Linked DNA regions of Homo sapiens. The protein of the gene in region 1 purifies or fractionates together with the protein of each later gene. This does not show direct contact. Each region holds a gene or a part of one and is shown on either strand. Other genes may lie near its edges.

Region 1 (7,774 bases):
CCAGGAAGCCTCTCCCACAAAGGGTCAGGCTCTTTGTAGCATCTCCTCCTTGGGGCACTTCCCATCTCCCAGACCTTTCCATCGTTCATCCCCAGCCCCACCTCACCTCGGGTACACAGGGCCACGCAGTGACCACCGCGGGACCAGGGCTGGTGAGCAGCCCAGTATGCAAAGTTCCAGCGGCTGCCGTCAACCCACTGAAAGCGTCTGCAGCGACCCTGGAGAAAGCAAGAGGGGAAGAAGGGATGGGGCAGAGGGAAGGCAGAGAAGCAGACCTGGCCCCGTATCTGCCAGCTCTTTCTGCTGCCCACCGGGCAATGGGCCCTTCCCTGCTGGACCATGATGGGAACTGTCCTAGTCATCTGAAATGCTGATCCACGGCAATTATCACCATCAGATTCTATGCATCCCAGTGACAGGCTTGTCCTTCCAGCCCTAACAAAAGGTAGAACAAGGGTTGCCAACTCATCCTAGAGATGAGGAAACAAACTCATGGTCTTGTTTTAATTTTTTTTTTATTTTATTTATTTATTTATTTATTTTTGAGGCGGAGTTTCGCTCTTGTTGCCCAGGCTGGAGTGCAATGGCTCCATCTCGGCTCACCGCAACCTCTGTCTCCCAGGTTCCAGTGACTCTCCTGCCTCAGCCTCCCAAGTAGCTAGGATTACAGACATGCACCACCATGCCCAGCTAACTTAAGTTACATAGATAGTGAGAGATGGAAAGGAACTTGGACCCAAACCTCCTGATTCTAAATCCTTAGCTCTTCCCTGAATGCCCAGGCAGCCCCCTCAGTGTTGTCTGTGGGTGTCCATCTATCCCTGGTTCTTCTGGAGATTATACAGGAGAAAAACAGACAAATCTGATGCAAGCTGAGTGCTGGCTGAGATCAGCAGGTGCACCCCATTTAGTGTTCACACTTCTCTTACCGAGCCTGTGATCCTGCCTCCAATCCAGACTTGACCCTGGTTGAGCGCGCTGACAGAACACTGGATTCGATAATTAATATTGAAGTTGTGGATGGAAACCAGGTTGCCCCTGTAGCACCTCCGGCAAGTAAACTACAGGGCAGGATAAAAGACAAAGAATGGAGCATCCTTCCTACATGAATTCACATGGGTCTTGAGTCCCCACAATTCATTCCCTCCCTCCCCTGCCACAACCATTTGAAGGTTGGAGACCAAAATGCAACTTCTGTTTGTAGGTGGCCCTCCCCTCTTACCCCAACACCTCTCTGAGGCTCAGGTTCTACTGACACCCCCAGGGCCCTCAATGGGAAAAAGAGCCAGTGATAGCAATGCTGGGGGCATATCCCACACCCGTTCCATGCTCCCACCTCAGCCTCAGCCATAGGCCACTCACCCAAGCTTGACTAAACGTCTGAAGACTTCTCACCAGGAGGTAGCGGCAGGTCTGGCACCCAGGGATGCCCACCACTTTTACTGTGTCCTCTTCCTCAGGACACGTAAGGTTTTTGTCCACCATATCTGGCACTGAGATAGACTCAACAGCCCCATCTTTCTTGGAGGCATCTTCACTTCCAGAGCCCCACTCCTCCTCTTCCTCCAGCTCCCTGCAAGGGGTCTCCTCCATCTCCTGCTCTGGTGTCTCCTCATCCTCAGGCAGCGTCTTAGCACCCAAAGGGGTCTCAAAGGTGGAAGTCTCAGACCCTGGCAGGGAGGATAGCTAAGTGTCCTTCCTTCACATCTCCCCTTGTTCCTCCCCAGAACCACAGACAGCTCACACCTTGCCCTGGGCATCAGAGTGCTCAACTCTGCCTGGGAAGGGGAACCTGGAACCCAGTCTCTATGAGGGGAACCCAAGCTGCCTGACAAGGTCAAGGTGGTTAAGAGCATGGACTTAGAGTCGGGCAGTCATGGGCTTGGGTACTGGTTCCATCATCCACCAGCTGTATTTCTGTGAAATGGGTATACAATACCACCTACTTCATGGCGATGCTAAGAGAGTTAAAGGAGAGAAGGCACTCAGTAAGCTCAAAGTAAGCATAATGGAGAAAGGACAAAATTGGGAATGTCACAGTAGAACCAAGACCACAGACATAACAGACGCCTTGAGAAATCCTTTCAACTCCTGGCCATAGAGTCCCCATCCCTTTAAGCACACAGAAATTCAGAAATAGAAGACGATCAAAGAAGGGGGTGGGTGTGTAACTCTGACCCCATCTACCATAGAAAGGGAAAAAACAGAGAAAGAAAGACTGAAGGCAAAAAACACTTACTTAGATGAAGAGCAGAAACTGCCCCAAATAGAAGAGCCAGAAGTAAGGGGAGTTTCATCTTGGCTTTATCCTGCAACGGAGAACACAGTTTGTCATTGACACACACAGACACACATGCACACACATCACAATCACACCATTAGGGGACCGTGGGAGTGAGGTGGAGAAAAAGAAGGCCTGAATAGAAATCAGGATGGGCCAGAAAAGCTCATGCCAAGCCCAGCTCCTGATGCTCCAGGATCCAGGACGCAAGGACCTCTTTCTAAACAGAACGCAGCAAACCCTGAGGGGTGGCTGAGGCTGGCTTTCCTTCAGGCCCGGAAGTAAAGAAGGGACTATTACGCTTATTTGTTTGTACTTAATGGGTCCCTCAGAGTCTATGACATAAAAAAGGCGGGAGAAGCAATGATTATTGGCTTTCCTAGGAACACATAGGACTTAGAAGGTATGTCCCCTCCTCAGAGTTCAAGAAGCCACCCACACCCTCCTCCATGTCTCCACCATCTCCTTTCCCCAGCCAAGGAGCACTTTCACATCCCGCAGAAGGAATGTGCAAGGCAGAGGATGAAGGCTGCCCCTGCTGACATCCTCATAACCTGAAAGCCACAGGTAGACGCCTGCCAGCCCTCCAGAAACTGTCAGCCACAGCCAGGGACCTCCTGGGAGAATAAACTGTCACCAGCTCCACCACAGCAGAGAAAGCACTCACCCACCCAGAGACCTTCCTGGGTCTTTAGATCTTCCCAAAGCCCAGGTCCTTCTTTGCTTCCTCTCACAAAGACTTCTTATATAGAGGCCTTGGAGGAACTTCCCCCAGGGAGAGAGAGTTTGCCTCTGTCAGAGGGAGATAGCAAGGCTGATAAGGACCATTTCATCACTTCCCTGGGGAGCCCACTCATTCATTCAGTGAAGATTTCTCTCCCGATACCCACTTCAGGAACCCAGGGGCCATCTGGAACAGCTCTGGGCAATGGTTCTTATCCTGGGCTACACTTCAGAATCGCCTTGGGTGCTTTTCCAAAATACATATCTCCCCTGTTTTACTGGTGTTTTGAACTGCCACAAACATTTTGAGAACAAATCTGTCCATACCTATTAAAATAAAAAAATGCACATTTGATCAGTTTCACTCTTTTGAGACTATCCTTTAGGCATAAATGCGCCTATAAGTAATAAAACTTTTACAGAGTTATGTTATTCCTTGACTATTTGTAGAAATGAAAACAATATTGATATCCATCAATCGGACACTGAGTAAAATGTGTCCTCTCTATTCTACAGAATGTTATATGGCTATGAAAAGAAGAGCTGGACCTGTATCTATAAACCTGAAGAGATGTTTCTGTGACATGAAGTGAAAAAAGGCAAGATACTGAGGAAAGTATTTAGTATGTGAATAGTTTTACAAGGAAAAAAAAAACCCCCGCATAGGTGCTTATCTGTGAGCATCCTTATGTGACCATTGATGGAGGGAATGCTAAAAGGAATCACACCAAATAGTTGACCTTGTTGCCTCCAGAAGCAGGGGAGGAGAGGGAAGAAAGCAGGAGACAGATTGTTGTTTATCTTCTTTTTATAACTTTGCATTTCTTCAGTGGTTATGGTAAATGCGTGCTGAATCTGTAATTTTGAGGCTGCCTTATTAAAGATTTTTAAAAATATGCAGATGCCCTGCCCAGAAACTTCTGCTTGGCTAATAGGTCTAGCGTGAAGGTCAGATGTCTGCATTTTTTTAAAAGCTTCCCAGCTGACTGTGATGGAAGATGGGTCTAGGAGTCACTGTCCTGAGGATCTTCAAGTACAGGAAATGTTCACGTATGTCTAACTTCTTTCCTTCTGAATCAGACCACTCAGTTGGCCAACCTACCAGCCTTCATTATGGTAACATTTACTGAACATTTTTAAATGCCATGCATGGCAAGTGGCTGGATGCAGTGGCTCATGCCTGTGATCCCAGCACTTTGGGAGGCTGAGGTGGGTGGATCTTTTGAGGTCAGGAGGTTGAGACCAGCCTGGTCAACATTGCAAAGCCTTGTCTCTACTAAAAATACAAAAATTAGTCAGGCATAGGGGTGGCTGCCTGTAATCCCAGCTACTTGGGAGTCTGAGGCAGGAGAATCACTTGAACCCAGGAAGTAGAGGTTGCAGTGAGCTGAGATTGCACCACTGCACTCCAGCTTGGGCGAGAGAGTGAGACTCCGTTTCAATCAATCATCAATCAACAAAATACTGTTCATGGCAAGTATTACCTCATTTAACCTGATTTTAAAAACCTAGTGAGGTAGGTGGTTGATACCCCATTTTCCAAGTGAGACAACCCAGGCTCTGTGTGGCTCCTGATCTCCCCGCAACACTGCCCTTATTGGATCGATGCCCTGTATACACCCTCTTGTAGCTCCAGGGGCTTGTCCTTATCAGTTAGTCATTTTACTTTTCTTGTGAGATTACTTGGTTAATGGATTAACATCTGTCTTCCTTCGTGATGGTGAAGGCTGCATCTCTTTACTCACCATTGTATCCTTGGTGCTTAGTACAGTGCCCGGCACATAGTAGGTACTTAATAAATATACATTGAAGTAATTAATGGTTAAGTAACGTACTCACGTAAACAACAGGGTTAGAATTCAAATCCAGTTCTTTCTGGCACCAAACTTCTCTCCCCTCCCATATGCCTGCTTGTGTGTCAAAAATGATGCTATCCAGGTGGAGATAAAATCAGAGTGAAGCATAGATCCTGTATTCAATTAGCTTACAACCTAATTTGTAAGATGAGTAAATTGAGGTCAAACAAAAGGAGAAGGGTTAAGACCAAGCTAGGAAACATCCTCTGCTAATTCAGAAGGAAGTCCATGCATAGTAAAACAGAGCAGAAAAGGCTCCATGAACCAAGGAGCTGATTCCTACCTGGATGGAAAGATGCAATTAGAAGGGAAGGAAACAGGCATTTCAAGTAGAAGGAACAGCTTGAGCAAAGGTGTGGAGGTTGGACAGCCTTGGTATATGCACAGGACACTGTAATTTCCTTCATAACTAAAGTTAACAGTACACACATTGGGAAGGAATGAGAAAAACGAGGAACGATGCATTTCATCTTGAGCCGAGGATGGAGATAACCCTCCCCTGTCTCCATTGATTTAAAAAGACAGAAGCAGGAATCAAAGGAATACTCAACAAGAGCCTAGTCAGGAGCTTTGAGCTGGGCTCTGCGCACTCCCATCTGCAAGCCCTCCCCACAGGACCTCTTTGGCTGTTGGACAGAGGATTACTGTCATAAGGTGATGAGAGGGAGCCCATTCTTGGAAACCAGTTGACTGTTCAGGGACCCTCACTCCTAGGGAAGTCTCTCTTTTAGGTCATACAATCCAGGATCTGAAATCCACAGCTTAGCAACCCTGAAAATTTCATCAACATTCACTGGAAGTATACAGCAGTGTCTGAGAGGGTGGCTTCTGGAGTCAGACAGTCCAAGTCAGACTCAAATTGACTGGGTCTAGCACTTAATAGCTGCGTGTCGTGTCCTGGGCAAGTTCCTTAAACTTTCTGTACCTCATATCATCATTTATGAAGTAGGGATGACAATACCTACCTCACTGGGTAGTGTGAGAAATGAATGAGATAATTCACATGTAGCATGCATGCTGTGAGCTGCCCAGTCACCTCACCCCTTCCTGTGGTTTCTTGGATTCCATTTCCTATGGATCTTGGTGGAGGACAGGCCTCTCATTTTTGAAGACAAAAGTTCCTAATAGATTTTCAGCTTCCTTTGCAGCTAACGCATATGACTGGGCTCTATCAAAGAGAAGAAGCATCTATTCAAGATTTTGAATCTGGAGCTAGTGACCAAAAAGATGGAGGCCAAGAAGGCCTCTCTCTGGCGGTGGCGTTGACAAGATTGAGTTCCTGGAGTTGCAGTACCCACAGAGGCACTGCAGGATACATTGATCCAGGGTCTGAGCCCTACAACATCCTGGGTGCCAGACACAAGGTCTAGGTCTCAGCAGCAGTGGGATCCTCCCTAGACCTGTTCTGCAGCCTGACTTTGGCTCCATGTCTGGTTTTCCGGCCCTTCCTGCAATTTCATGAGCTACTCCGTTTCCTTTCAGTCCTGGATTTTTCTACTTAGATCAGCCAAGGAGAGTTTCTGCTGCCTGCCATTAAGAGCCCTGACTGATGCAGCATTTAGCACAGAAACTGGTATTTAGTAATTGCTTAGTAAATGAATGCTACCCAGGGTCTTTGAGTGTGACCAGCATTAATCAAACTTTCAAGAGACTGATGTCTACTTTTGGTGCCAATGACATAAATGAGGTTGAACGGTACTCACAAGGGGCCCACTTGCCCAGGCTCTCTGATAAGCACATTCTTTCCCTGCATCACAACTGTGGTGTGCTCAGGACTTGAATTTCAAATGGGAGCGAAGAGCTGGAGGCCTTGGGGTCCAGTGCCTTTGAGCAAGAGAACGATACCCATCATCTCCGTTTAATCCTCAGCCCTGCCTCCTTCCCCAAGAAATGTTGACTCATCACTGCAGGATCCTGAATCTTAGGCATCCTCCTTTCTAGCCCTAAAGTTACTACAGAGCTTGGAGGTTCCTAAACAGACTCAGTCAATCCTCTCCATACCAGCACTTCCAAAGGGGACCTGACAGATCACCTCTGCATTTAATCTTTTCTGATCTAATTCTCGGGGGGCTCATCCCAACTTTAGGCTTGTGGGGGAGTGTGCTGTAGCTCCTGGTACAAGCTGTCCAGGGTCAGACCTGGTACTGAGGGGTCTGCTCTTCTACAAGAGTGGGCTGTTGCAACAGGAGAAAAACATGTGTGCACCAGGCAGAGCAGAGATCACCTTGGAGATGGTGTCAATACCAAGGAGCTCTTGGGATGCCCCTCCCATGCCCAACCCCCAACACATGACAGCTTAAAGACTAAAAAAACCACCACAGCTCCAGATATGCAGCTCACACTATTCAGCCCTCACCTCCACCTGCATCCCTCCCCACACCCTGCAGCAGAGCTTTTCAACCTGGAAACTATGAATAGGCTTCAAGGGACCATGAACCCTGCAATTATAGAAAACATGGTGTGATGTTTCTAGGGTGAAGGTCCAAACCCTCCATGAGATTCTTTGATGACTTCCCAAAAGGCAAGAGAACCTCTAACTTTACTGAGTGATTTTTTTCTGGAAGAACCAAGAATGACATTCCACTGTTCTTCACCAATAAAGTCCTGCTTGGCCCTTTTGACAGGCAGAATTCAGTTGTCCCCTGGTGCACTGTGCATAATCCCTGGGACTGTAAATATGATGGATTTTACTCCTGTGGTTGTGTGATGTTACATGCCACAGTTGACTTTAAGGAAAAGGAACTGCCCTCTATGGGTATGATCTAATCAGGTGATCCCATAAAAGAGACAGGGCTCTCTTCCTGAAGTCAGAGAGTCCAACCATGTGGGTGATTCAATCCAAGGGAAATTCTCCATCACTGGCTTCAAGGATGGAAAAGACCACGCACGTGGCAAGCAATGTGGGCAGCCTCGA
Region 2 (7,023 bases), on another chromosome or scaffold:
CAATGCAATGAGCAATGAGCTGAGATCGCACCACTGCACTCCAGCCTGGGTGACACAGCGAGACTCTGTCTAAAAAAAAAAAAAAAAAAAAAAAAAAAGAAAATGATAAAATTATGATTCCATCAGTTCTCTGAAATCTACCTCAACATTCTGGAACTCTCCACAGCCTGTTTCCTTATCCCTACAGTGAGACAGTAACACCATGGTGCCCTCCCATACAGGCTGATAAGGACTCAGCCAGGCAGCACAGAAAACCCAGCAGTCAGTGTGTGTGGAAGAGAGCAGGTGCTCAACACATGTGAGTTTTCAATGTTACTATGAATAATAGGCTGAACATTTCTCTCTGACTTGTTCCTCATTCACCTACCATCTGTCTGGACTTTTAGTAAACCTGCAACCTCCCACCAAGGGACTTACCCTGGAGCAGGCTGAGGTGAGAGGCAGGAAAGGAGCTGGCCTCCAGCAATCAGCTCAGTCTGAGTCCCGGTGAAGATGTCTTGGCTTTCCATCAGCTTCCGGATCTCATCTCGGGGCACAACGTGGCCACCAGCAAGCACGACATTAATCCTTGGATCTGGCAGCAACACCAAAAAAGAGCGTTTGCTCTTCACAGGCACTCCCTAAAACGAATCTGCTCATTCGCCTGGAACTCACTGAGACTGCTTCACAGCATGACCAGCATCGACCACCTCTCACCACCCCAGGCGTCCCAGGTCCAACCCAGCGCCCTCTTCTCTGCCTCCTGTCTCCCTGCTCCTTGGCCCAGGACACCTGCAGCCAGCTACCATGATCCTATTAACACCCAAGTCAGAGCACGGCACTCACCTGCTGACAACCCTCCAACAGCTCCCATCTGACTCTGGATAGAAGCCGAAGTCTCGGCCATGGCCCCCCAACTCTGTGGCCTCACTCCTCCAGGTCTCTCCACCTGGCCTCCCTGCCATATCTGAAGTATTAGAGGCCTTGGGATCATGGCTCCTGATCCCAGAAATGCTGTACCTGGGTATCTACAAGGCTTCCCTAGGCCTCCTGGGACCCCAAGCCTAAGACTGCATGCCCTCTTCCCCTCTTTGCCTTCCTCCCGAGCTCTGGCCACTTCCTGGGCTCCATGTCACCTGGCTCCCTCCAGTCCCCGTGAGCGCAGGGGCATCTGCACGCAGTGCAGCCTGGCACGTGGTAGGGGATGAATGTATGTCTCTTGGTTACATGAGAGAAAGCAGCCTGCATTAGGAAGGACCCTGGGAGGCCACGCACAGTGGCTCACACCTGTAATCCCAGCACTTTGGGAGACCGAGGCGGGCAGATCACCTGAGGCTGGGAGTTCGAGACCAGCCTGACCAACATGGAGAAACCCCGTCTCCACTAAAAACACAAAATTAGCCAGGCATGGTGCTACATCCCTGTAATCCCAGCTACTCGGAAGGCTGGGACAGGAGAATCACCTGAACCCAGGAGGCAGAGGTTGCAGTGAGACGAGATGGTGCCACTGCACTCCAGCCTCAGCAACAAGAGCGAAACTCTGTCTCAAAAAAAAAAAAAAAAAAGGACGACCCCAGAAAGAACCCTAGCCCCAAGCCGAGAGAAGCCTGCTCTGTGACCAGGACAGTTGGGTGGTTCGGCATAACTTCTCCAAGAGGCATTTTTGACAGTAACTAGCAAACGTGTTCATTCCCTGAATCCAGAAGTTCCACTTCTAAGAATTCATCCTAAGGAAACAATGCGAGAGTAACAGAAATGTGATCCCCTCCCCCCACCACCAAATATCCGACAAACAGCATGTACTCAACACAGGCATGCATGCACAGGTCAGAATTTGGAATTCTGGAAAAAGGGGAAGGGGAATATAATTAGTGCTAGAGGAAAAAGCTTGTATAAAGGACAGACTGAGATAGAAAAACCCAGATACAATGAAGGGAACCACATGCTAAGGAAAGCCGGGATTGTAAGGAGAACCAACAGCCTAACAAAGTATCTTTTAAAACAAATGTTACAATCCAGCTTCTAATGCCCCAGGCGAGACCCTGTGGGGAAGGAGGCTGGGCGCATGTGCCAAAGAACTCACACAATGCCCAGACAGCTAAAGAGTGTCTGACGGTAAATGTTTATCTCACCAGGCTGGTCAGTCTCGTGAAGCTGTAGTTTTTCTCAGTGACTGTATTAAATCCACTTTCGCACTCATTCGATACCCGAGTGACCGCATGCAGGACAACCTCGCAAGCCAGCACCTGCCGACCCGCCTGGCCCCACCACGATGCAGAGCCCCGAGGTGGCTGTGCTTTCTGCCAGCACTGGCCACTCTCTCTCTCTCACCCCCACTGTGTCCTTCCATAGAACAGAGACCCCCCCACCTGACACCCCTGCCACACCATCACCTGGACCCTTGGGCCCCAGCCTGCCCCAGGAACTCCAGAACCACACCCAGTGAGCCCACGCTCCAGGTGGGCAGAGGCCCTGGAGGCAGAGTTCCGGGGTCCCCACCAGGGCAGAGCCAGGGACAGGGCGCACCCCCACCCCATGCTTGTCAACAAGAATGAGCACTGTGGAAGCAGCCAGGGGCCTGCTCCTTACCAGGAGCTCAGGCGTGGGCCCTGCCAGGACATCAGCGGGTTCTACTGCCCCTCATTGCTCCCAGCCAGAGTGGGTCCCTCGGGACAGGAGGCAGTGTGCTCACCCTGTCTTCACAAGCCACACACCTAAGACTGTGCATATGAAAGGGACTCGGAGTATTTGTTGAAATCATTTAAAATGTTAAATTAAAACTATGTGGGATAAACATAATTAAACCAGGAAATACTGGTAGAACATTCAATTTAGGAATTGCAGTCAACCCTCAGTACACTCAGGGGATGGGTTCCAGGACCCCCAGAATGCCAAAATCCGAGCACCCTCAAGTCCCACAGCCCACCCGTGGAACGCAGGTGCATGGAAAGTCAGCCCTCCATATACGCCAACTTCACCTCCCACCAGTACTGGATTTCTGAGGTTGAAAAGAATCTGTGTATAAGTGGACCCTCTAATGTCAAACCCAGTTGTTCAAGGGTCAGCGGTAATCCGATATGCTACATGGCTTCACTTAAACTACATGAAGCTATATAAGTTTACTTAGAAAAGACAAGACGGTCAGTTAGCTGTGTCTCGGATGCTGTGTCTCGGATATCATGGGCACTGGTGATGCACTCTTGGGGGGTTTTCTATTCTCTTCTCTATGCTCATATGTTTATAAGAATATGTCACAGCCCCCGAGACAGAGAGGAACATCAAACCAGAAAACAGTCACCCCCTACTCCGCCCCCCACCACCCCTGAGCCTCTGGAGGGACAATAGCTCCTGCTCCTCCCAGCCCTGTCTCAGAGGCATGGGGCTGTCTGGGGCTCAGCAGCTACAGGCGCATTCAGGAGGAAGAGGACGTCTTACCCTGGCCCCCCTCAGCTGGGTCCTGGCCCTGCCACGGGTCCAAGGTTCTCTCCCCACACCCACTCTCATTGCCGACGTCCAGGCAGCTGGCCAGGTCTGGGAGCTGTAATGAGCTGTTGTACGCAAGGTCCATGTAGCTGTAGAAACCAGGAATCAGGAAAGTGATATTCTAGAAAACAAAGCAGGGACATTTCAGAACCTGGAGGATCCACGCTGACCCACTGGACCGTCCCCCTGGGGGAGGAATGAACACAAGGAGAGCCAGTCCCTGAGGGTTCACCCTTAAGGTCAGGAAAGGCCTCGGGCCAAATGCCCTTCGACGCACCTGAAGCCCCTCAGATGCTCAACATGTGATCTGTGATTTTCCCCTTAAGAAAAAGGTAAAAACATACTCTGCGGCAAGTTACAGTGACATCGACACATCTTTGGAGCAGACATCTGGCCTTTGGCCCCATGTTTAGATGGATCTGGGAGCCTGTGTTTGCAAGCCTCACCTCACGCGGCTCACTGGTGGCCGGAACAGTGACATGCACCCAGGACAGAAGGACTGTGGGGCCTTCCTCCCAGGCCAGGAGCTGCTCTGACAGATGCTTCCTCTGAACCTGTGTGTGGCCCCCTCACCGGGACACTGCCCATAGCTGTAATGCCAGAACCCGCTCTAACCTCACAGAGGGCACAAGTGTCCATGCCCCCAAAATCCCTGCAAGGTCTCAATGCCCTCAGCTCCTGTGGGAACCCCTCATCCAGGAAGAACACTAACTGCTTTTTAACTAACTTAAATTTAACGTAACTACAATTCAGCTTAGCTACTTTTTAGTATTTCTACTAGGGTGAGAAATGAACCCCCGCAGTTGTGTCGTAAACCCTGGTCCATCAGTCAGACCAGATCTCTCAGGGCTTCGAAGCACAGTGCTCCTCTCCCTCCGACGGTGGTTGCTGGGGAAGGGTGGAGAGGAAGGAGCTTGGCAGCCATGAGCAGGGACCTCCCTCCCTGGACCCAAGGTCCTTCCTGGGTAAAGGAGCGAGCTGGAGAGCTTGCCGGGTGCGAGGCCTGTGCCACACGCAAGCCCGCACTGCAGAGCACAGCAGCTTCCTCCCAGGGAACGGGAGCCAGGCGCCCAGGGCAGCCCCACCTTGCCCAGGAGCTCCGTCTTTCCGTAACCAAACAGTGTCAGCGCGAAGCTGTGGTTGATGCCGTGGATGGTCCCATCCGGCAGGAGGGTGATGAGGCCACTGATGGTGCAGAACACCCAGACAGATGCCCGGTAGCCGCTCACAGGGGCCGCCTCACCGGTGGTCGCCTCCTCGCTGCTGGGTTGGGATTTCAGCTTTAAGCTCAGAGGGAAGGTGGTACCGTCCCTGGCTCTTCCAACAGACCTCTGAATCTTGAGATTCTGAAAGAAAGGCTTGTCGTTTGGCTTAAGCCGTGTTTCACGTGGACAGAGCACTGAGTCTGTGCTGCGTCCGACCCGACTTCTACCCCACGTCATCGGGGAAGGTCCCCAGGACATCTCACACCCACACTGCTCTGCCTTCCCTCTCCTCCCAGGCCCAGCTGGCCCAGGAAAGAGCCCTTCTGTGGGTGGGGAGGACTCAGTGTCCAGAGCCGCCCCAGGCACAGCAACCCCAGGGCAAGTGAGACACCCCAGTGAGGGGCCGGGCACCAGCAGGGAGGGAGGGAGGGAGGACTGTGGGGCTCAGGCTCGGGGCTCAGCCACGCCACTGGCAACTGTGCCATCCTTGATCTGGCACCAGGATACTGGCCCCACAGGCAGCACTACACCAGCTGCGCAGCTGTGGATGTTACCTCCCACCCCTCAGCCTTGGGCAGCGTCCCAGCATCCACCTCTGTGGGTGGCCCAGCTCCTGGGAGAAGACTCAGGGGACAAGAGTGGTCAGCTGGGAGACCACATAGGCTCCGGCCCTTGGTCAAGGCCTCAGCGCACAGGAAGCTCAAAACTGAGCATGTCCCACCCCTAAGGCCACCCTTGCCTTCAGAAACCCTTGGTCTGCGTCTCCAGTTATGGATTCAGAGCTAAGAACTCCACCCCATCACACAGTGCGGGAGGTCAGGAGCCCTACCTTTGGGATGTGCTGGCCAGAAGGAGGGAGCTGCACAGAAGGGATCAGGTCTGTGATATGCTGCCCAGCCACGTCCTCCCCAGACACGTACCCGTGAAGATGAGCAAAGAGACTGTCACATGACGTGACGGTGCCCTGGAGGAAAAGCCCCGTGCTTATCATAAAAGCTTCTTGTGCTCCAGCTGTAAATTTAACTAAGCTTCAATATGTTCAAGCCAAAAGCAAGACCCCAACATGACTTCTCCATCGGAAGGGCAAGAGACATATACACATGAATTTGATAAGAGCTTCATCATCTGTCTCCTTCTACCAGAGACGTACCTAAATTGTGGGCCTTCTTGTTCTTCAGGAGCCTGGCCCACACCACAGCTCATTAATAACATCCCAGTTCACATATGAGGGCTGTCTCTAATGCCAGCTACTATCCTGGGGGGTTTACATATATTATCTCATTTAAATGTTGAAACAATCTTATGAGGAGTTATGATTATGCCCCAGTTCACAGGTGAGGAACTGAAGTATAGGAAGTTCGTTCCCTGCCCAAGCACACGCAATCAGCGAGGGTACCACTGGGCAGACCCTCCAGGCTCCTCATCCTCTCTTTCTTCCCAAAGGAATGAGACAGGGACCAGCACTTGCTGAAGAGGAGAACGACGCCGGCTCCAGCGTCCATGAGACATGAGGCAAAGTTGCACACTCACATCGCTCTGGAAAGCGACCCAGGTCGAGACCCTCTCCACGGGCTCCAGGACCACCACGCAGCATAGGCGGCGCTCCTGCCGCATCCTCTTCATCCACACAGACACTGGAATCTTCTCCCCACTACGGCTGATGATGTCCACCTGTGGAAACAGACAGGTTCACACCTGCATGCCATGAACCCAAAAGACCAGTATGGGTGGGGCACCTGCCTCCAGGAGGCCCAAACTCCAGGCACTGCAACGTTTTCAACTTCTGCTTACCTGATTTTCATTTCAGAAATTTACCAAAGCACAAACAAGATTTCCCATACTGAACATTAAAATCTCCAAGTGCAAGTTTTATCAAGAGAGTAGATTTCATTCTCAGTTCATGGTAATATTGCAGGGTGAAAAAAGCAGTATCTGTTATTTCTTAAAGAAACAGACACCAACACATGGTGAATATCTTAGTTTTTTTCTTCTTAGTAGTCAGTTTCTTGAACCAGTGATTTTCTGATACAATTGGTCCTAAGCCTGTGACATCAGTTCAGTTCAAGCAATGGGGTCTTCTGTGTGAAAGCCACACACTAGGTGGGAAACAGGCAACCTGGAGGATCTGGATGACTACTAGAGCCTCAGATCATACCCCAACCTCCACTGCCCTCCAACGCTACTCCCCCAGTCCCCGACCGGCTGACGAGGGGAAACCCTACAATCAGCCATGCCTTGGGCTTTTTCCATGCCTTGGGCTCAGTCCTCCACATCCAACTCAGCTCACCTGTCAACATCCAGGTTGGACACATGGCACAGGTGAGAGAATCAACACTGTCTAGGGAAATGCTTCCAG
Region 3 (7,023 bases), on another chromosome or scaffold:
CTTCAAGTCAAAGTATCTTGTTAACTGAAATAAAGTGAGGTACATGGAAACATTCAATTTATTAGTTGTGCTTTTTGCATTGATTTTAAATCAAAGCTACTCACACATCAAATCTTATTGCTATTACTTCAGTTTCTTCAAGAAATGGTTCCTTTTCAAGTTATTTCAACAAATGTAAGGTTGTTCCATACTCCTCTTTCTACAGGCCTGAAGAACTTCTCTGAATCATGGTAAACTCTAATACTTTGTGATTTCTCTCACAGTGCTCCTTAAAATACTAATGCAGATGGAGAGATTTAGTAAATCATCATGTTCAGTAAATAATGACTAATTTGCTCTTTCTGCTATGGCTCCTCAAGACAGAACATGTGGTTTTGCTCTCTGATGGTCTTGAAAGCCTTGTGTAGAATTTATTAGGTTATACATGTTTTTGAGTGGTAAGTTCCAGCTTTTTGGTTTGTGGAAGGAGCCAAGTCAGAGCTTACTTACCACTATACTCCTCATCTAGAAGTATTCTCATCAAGAACATGAGTTCAGTGTTAGACTAGGCTTTAGTAACATAAGGGTGCTATACCAGTGCATACATTTTCTGGGGAGCTGGAAAATTCAGATGACCACTCACTAAACATAAAATCATCATTCCACAAAGATTTTATTCACATTAAACTTGCACAGTAGCAAAAAAAATCAAAACATAAAACTAAGCCACATATCAAAGAACAATATACAATAGAGATTTGAATTTCTCAATAGCATTGGAAGGTATTTCCATAAATAACATTTACAATTCTAATGTTAGGACTTTCAAGGTGTCTGAAGCTTCACAGTGCTAGAATTGATTTTTATCAGAACACATGCAAAAATGTGCAACATAATAATTCATATTAATGACACAAAAAAAAAGCACGCCAGTTATTTGTCATTCCAGCACGGCCATGCCACTCTATGTTCTAAAAACAAACAAACAACCCCCCAAATCCGGGTCCCATTCATTCTTCAATTATGCCTTTAGTCACTCTGCTTTATTATATTCAAACAGTCACTGTTAGTGCTCTTCACCACGACTTTCAGGTTGACGTCACTCCCTGCCTGCTGGCTGTCAGGACTGGGGGACGCCCCTCTCCCAGACTCACCTTCTTCCGGATGTCTTCATCATTTGCTCCAAGAGAGGCATAGAGCTTGAATGCAGCCTGGCGGAGTTCGTGAGCATGTTTTAAATCATGATCAAGCTATGGGGAAAAAAAGGATATGTTCCAACTCAGTCCATAAATTCAACTTTCAATAACATTAACTGAGTTGAAGAAAAAAAAAGTTTACAACTTTTAGATTTTAGTGAATTTCCCAGTCATTAACTACATTTCCCAGTTATTTTTGGATTCTGTTCACATAGCACTGAGACTTTGCAGTGTTCGTATCAATGTGACCTAAAATGCACACAATATGCTTCCATTTAAAAGTGAACACTATATTTGACACTGATATATGAAAAACCATTGTGAATCTCTGACTCCGAAAAATTCAGTGTTCCTAAATGGTAGCTTTACTGGCACTAATGCTTGCTTGCAGCAGCTCTTTGAAATGTTCTCCTTCAAAAGAAGGCACACCTGGACTTCTCTAGCCCCAGACTACAGCTGATAACCTGAATGAAATCGCAACAATGTCTTTAGGAGGGTTCCCTTAATTTTCTGAAACATTAAGAGTAGTGCTGGCCTAATTTTGGCATTTAAAAAGCTTTTAGAGGCCGGGCGCGGTGGCTCACGCCTGTAATCCCAGCACTTTGGGAGGCCGAGGCAGATGGATCATGAGGTCAGGAGATCTAGACCATCCTGGCTAACACGATAAAACCCTGTCTCTACTAAAAATACAAAAAAATGAGCTGGGCGTGGTGGCAGGCGCCTGTAGTCCCAGCTACTTGGGAGGCTGAGGCGGGAGAATGGTGTGAACCCAGGAGGCAGAGGTTGTAGTGAGCCGAGATCGCGCCACTGCACTCTAGCCTGGGCAACAGAGCGAGACTACATCTCAAAAATAAATAAATAAATAAAAATAAATAAAATAAAAAGCTTTTAGAAACAGAGAACCCATTGTGAAAATGCTTAACAAACCGTATACTATGGTAACCATTATTATCTATTACAGTTATCTGAGATTTATGTTGGGTATGGGTTTTTTCAAGAACATTATCAAAATTATCAGCATGAAGCAATTAATGGTATCTTTAAACATGCATAACTAATTATCAACTCTTCTATAAACTTGATCACCAAACTACTGTAAAGATAAAACAGAAGCATATTTTCAGGATACTTTCAATGACTGACTATGACCAAGTAACTATACAAAGTCTACCAATAATATAAATAACCTCGTAACTAAAAGCCTTAATGTAATCATCCAAATGAATACCACTTTTCCCAAAGAAGTTACTTTGGAAAGGTTCACTCATCCAATGATGTAGGTGTTGTTCATAACATTCTGAGACCCTCTTTTGAAACTTCCTAAAGAGCTAACTGGTATTATTAGCTAGAAAACACTGACAGTGGTATAGCTTGATCAATGATGAGACTTTTAGTTGTCACTGACTGTGTGTGAAGATGGAGAAATTCAGTTGGGTAATATAACGTAGGTAACAAAAAATTCCACAGAAAGCAAAAGACAATATATATATTTTACATATATATATAATTTGGGGTGGCTCTGAAGGCAATTCTTAATAGTTCCAAAACTTCTGTTCAAAGCAGACACTGATGGATTATAGGAAGAACTTCCCAATACAGAATACTCACTTTGATAAGTTCTAAAAGTATCTACTCTTAAAGTCTTAACTACATTCTAGTCATAAATTAAGATATAATACTGACTTGAACTAACATATCATGAAAATCACAAATTTATTAACATGTGAAGATTTCTCTTTACGGGTCTAGTGTCTATACTTTTCGGGTCAGAAACCTTTGGATAATCCATCATCAAAAATAAAGATGACAAAACAAACTATTACTCAAGTTTGGTATTACGATGTCATTTTTAAGGATTATTGTTGTTACAGTTTTACTCTGATGGAAATGAAATGGAAAAACTAACAGAAGGGATAATCTACGTACTAGTTAAATGATTTGCATATGCATAGGCTACATGTTCTTAAAATTGTTTCCTTACTCTCATGGCCATCAAAACATTTTATTTGCCTTCCTGGGGTGGTCAACTCAGGGCGTTCATGAGGCAGTAGCTAAGGGTTGCTCATGTATCTTTGTATTGGTAAGATACAGTGTCAGTGTGAAAAAATGACCAGAAGGAAAACAGACAAGGCAACTGGTTAAATGTATGTAACCCATCACTTCTACTGGAAAAACACCACTACTGAAAGAAGAGCAGACACATAAGTTTAATACCCAGAGAGTAGAGTACATTACTAATACAAATACCAGTGAAGGTTATTTTAGGCCCTTCTTAAGACAGAGTAAAGATATACCCTTAATAGTTTGCTTTATTTTCAAAGTTAAAAGCCAAATGAACAACTGCCTACCAAATGAGGTTTTTTGAAACTCAAAAGCATGAGGGAGAGGTCAAAAGGAGAATAGTTACCATTGGAACCACTGGCATGAAAAATACAGTTACATTCATGAAACAGTACTGGCTACTAATTAAGAGGCAATGTTCTCTCTACCATGACCTCCTTGAATAAACTTTCTCTTACAGAATGTTCATCTCCTATGCTTAAAGAAATGGATAGGGCAAACAGGCTGAGATGCAACAAGTCAAAATAAATACCGATCTATTCTAAGGAACTTAGGTTTTCAGAAAAAGCACAATTTGGCCTTTTTGGTCCCAAATTCAAGATTAAATGATGCTTTAGCTGTCACTAGCAGGCCCAAAGCACAGTATGAAACTGGGAAAAAGAGAAGATAGGGAAAGGTAACAAAATAGACTGTGGTGGAAAGTAACATGGGACAACTTAGTCTCCTGTAACAAAAAGATTACTCCTGACCTAAAGAATGAGAATGTAACAACAGAGATGATTCCATGACCAAGAATAAGATTATACGGTTATGTCAATACCCAGCTTGGAGAATCCACTACTTTTGAGGTTTAGTTGGGGAGTTAGGATGCAATTTTCTTTATTGCTTATCTGCTCAGTAAAAACTTTCTGACAATAAACATTAAACAACTTGGATTCAAAAATTCACAAAGCAATATTATCTATGTTACCAAAGATAAAAGAACCTTTATTTAAAAGGGCTTTAAGCTGTAGTTATCAATTGGTTCAAAACTGTGAACAGTAAGAAAAACTTTAGAAAAATCTCCCTTGAGCTGCTAAAAAAGGAAAATAACATACCCTTTTAATATCAGTGATGGCACTCACTGAGCTGGGATACTTGAAATAATCAGCAAGCATGGCAATGAGGTGATCAGTTATGCTAGCGATTCTCTGTAGCTCAACATCTGGTTCAATCAGATAGGCAAGTGTCTCAGCTCCTTCAACTCTCTCCTCTAGTAATCTCTCCTTACTGCACATTCGAACCAAACAAGGTAATGTCTGAAAGGTAGTGAGATTAATTATTTGCTTTTTGGTAAAGGTAAAAGCTTAAGCATATAGTGACTGAATCAACTCAATAGCTTTTATCAGGAGTAATGTTTATGATCATATATTTCCTTTACTGACTTCTAGAGAATAAAAGATTTTTTTAAAATGCAAAAACAAGCAAAATTCAGTACACATTAATAATTTGTACTGGCACATTAAACTCTATTCGTACGTCAAAGTATATTAATACAAATTCTAATTAGGCTTTTGGGACCGATAAGACAAGTTTTATTGTACAACTTTGTAAAAGACATTTAAGAATCCCTAACAAATCATGTCTGATGGTTCTGCCCTATCTATCTATTTATTTACCTAAAAAAGACCCAGCAGTTTAATCAGGAATGATTTTGCCTTAGGAAAAGTATGCTATCTCTTCCTTAGTGAGTAATATCGTTTATTTTTTGGTTTGGGGAGTCATACCTACAGTTGCCAAAACAAAATACAGCTTTAAAACTGCAGTGATCTTACCATTACTCAGATTCCACCAGTTCTACTATAATGCAACTGAAATGTATCACAGTTGCTAGGTTTTCCCAGTAACTTGCTGGAATTAGCAGTGGTATCCATGAGTCCAATTTTACTTCTGAGGTCCCTCAAAAATCTTGGCAATGGTTTGGTAACTTATCTACATTAGGTTCTCAATAAAAATATTACAGACATTTACTATTTCTTTTTCTTTTTTTTTGAGACGGAGTCTCGCTCTGTCGCCCAGGCTGGAGTGCAATGGCACGATCTCGGCTCACTGCAACCTCTGCCTCCTGGATTCAAGCAATTCTCCTGCCTCAGCCTTCTGAGTAGCTGGAATTACAGGCACCCACCACCACTCCTGGCTAATTTTTTATTTTTAGTAGAGATGGGGATTCACCAGGTTGGCCAGGCTGGTCTCGAACGACATTTACTATTTCTAAGCCTGACGGATCCACTTGAAAGGACAATGTGGAAGTATAAATTGAAATGTTATCATTATAGAAAGTCTTCCTCAAATACTGCAGGCAACTGTGCTTTGCTCTTTTATATATAATAAGTTCCTATTATATCTTTTACCACAGAGCTTAGCACTTCATCGTTCACTACTAATTTCCTATTAGGCTAGTAGAAGCTTTATAATTCAACCCTAGGTTTCCAAGGGGAAGGCCCTATTCTTTTTTCCCTAACATTACTAGTTACTAATATTTATTGATACCATAAATTCATGAATTATGTAATCTAATGCTCATGACTACTATGTGAAGAATATACTACTAACATTTTACCAATGCAGAAAAAGAGGAAGGTTAGAGAAGTAAATAAATCAAGATAAATGCTATGGAAGTCCGTGGCACTCTATGAAGAGTTGTTTACTTAGGGAGTGTTCAGATCTCATTAAATTAATTCTCTTCCCCAAAGACTAAAGCAAATATTAGTCTTCTTTGTGCTCTTTTATCCTTGGGATCACCTTTTGAACAATGATAATGTGAGATCTCATATTTATAAAATGACACATCATCAATTTACTTATACTTAATTTTTTATAGCTAATAAGACATTTTAATGTATTTAATATATTGTTATCCTCACAATAACCCTGTGCATAGATGAGCAGGAATTATTGCTTCAATTTTCATAATCTGGAGTCCGAGGCATCAAAAGAATAAAGGATGTACAGTCAGAGGTGGGAGTGCTAAAACCAGAATCCAGGTTTTAGGACTTTTAGGGCTGGTCTTTTCTCCAGGTTTTTCTAAATTCAAGTTGTATATGACATATCACAATGACAATGCTTGTTTTCATGTGTTATCTACTTATTCTCTTTCATTATGCCTTTTGATTATCAGCTATGAGAATGATATAAAGTCTTTTTCTGCAAAAGTGGCAAATCGTCTGCCTCTAAAACTGTAGTACAAATTTAATGACAATCAAGAACGAAATATATTTTCTGTTTCACCTGAATTGTACACTTTTACAATTTCCACATCCTCCTAATTACCATAAAATGAAAGGCTGTGACAATGAAATAATTATTTCACGCTGACTTTCGAAACACATCTAAAATCAATTTTTAAAAACTATATGACATCCACTGAAAAGAAAGCATGGTCTTTCAATATTATTCTACGCCATGCACATATATCATAATGATAAATGTGTAAAATGAAATATGAGTATCAATACTGATATTTAACACATAACTGGATAATTTTCACATTTTAAAGATAATTAATTAGCTTACCTTTAATACAATACAGTTATCATCTGTCCGAATTGCTCCAGCTCTACACATGTAAGTTAAACTGGAATAAGACAGCAGAAAATAAGTTTTTGCTTGGAGTTTAAAGCTTTAAATGAAAAATTATTTGCCTTTAAGATTTTATTAAAAAATCGAAAACCAAATAATATCACTTATCTTGAGAGTGAAGATTTTGACAATTCGCTTTTCGGAGGTTCAGTCAATTTAATAGTCAAAG

Evidence for each region. The genes of interacting proteins can lie anywhere in the genome.
Region 2: the proteins of PRG2 (region 1) and PASK purify together in Homo sapiens (affinity purification with mass spectrometry; 4 studies listed by BioGRID and IntAct, with this or other methods). This does not show direct contact.
Region 3: the proteins of PRG2 (region 1) and ARMC8 purify together in Homo sapiens (affinity purification with mass spectrometry; 3 studies listed by BioGRID and IntAct, with this or other methods). This does not show direct contact.

Annotation. Positions count from the first base shown.
Region 1 is NC_000011.10:57,387,648-57,395,421, forward strand, and holds the start of PRG2 (bone marrow proteoglycan isoform 1 preproprotein), read right to left. Parts: upstream 3,004-7,774; 5' UTR 2,949-3,003; exon of another isoform or gene 2,836-2,948; intron 2,310-2,835; 5' UTR 2,298-2,309; coding exon 2,240-2,297; intron 1,671-2,239; coding exon 1,363-1,670; intron 1,062-1,362; coding exon 930-1,061; intron 219-929; coding exon 107-218; intron 1-106.
Region 2 is NC_000002.12:241,132,457-241,139,479, forward strand, and holds part of PASK (PAS domain-containing serine/threonine-protein kinase), read right to left. Parts: intron 6,339-7,023; coding exon 6,198-6,338; intron 5,632-6,197; coding exon 5,497-5,631; intron 4,809-5,496; coding exon 4,548-4,808; intron 3,584-4,547; coding exon 3,415-3,583; intron 1,382-3,414; exon of another isoform or gene 974-1,381; coding exon of another isoform or gene 826-973; intron 575-825; coding exon 418-574; intron 1-417. UniProt on the Homo sapiens protein: Serine/threonine-protein kinase involved in energy homeostasis and protein translation. Phosphorylates EEF1A1, GYS1, PDX1 and RPS6.
Region 3 is NC_000003.12:138,239,294-138,246,316, reverse strand, and holds part of ARMC8 (armadillo repeat-containing protein 8), read right to left. Parts: intron 6,850-7,023; coding exon 6,789-6,849; intron 4,535-6,788; coding exon 4,334-4,534; intron 1,230-4,333; coding exon 1,134-1,229; coding exon of another isoform or gene 1,068-1,133; exon of another isoform or gene 1-1,067. UniProt on the Homo sapiens protein: Component of the CTLH E3 ubiquitin-protein ligase complex that selectively accepts ubiquitin from UBE2H and mediates ubiquitination and subsequent proteasomal degradation of the transcription factor HBP1.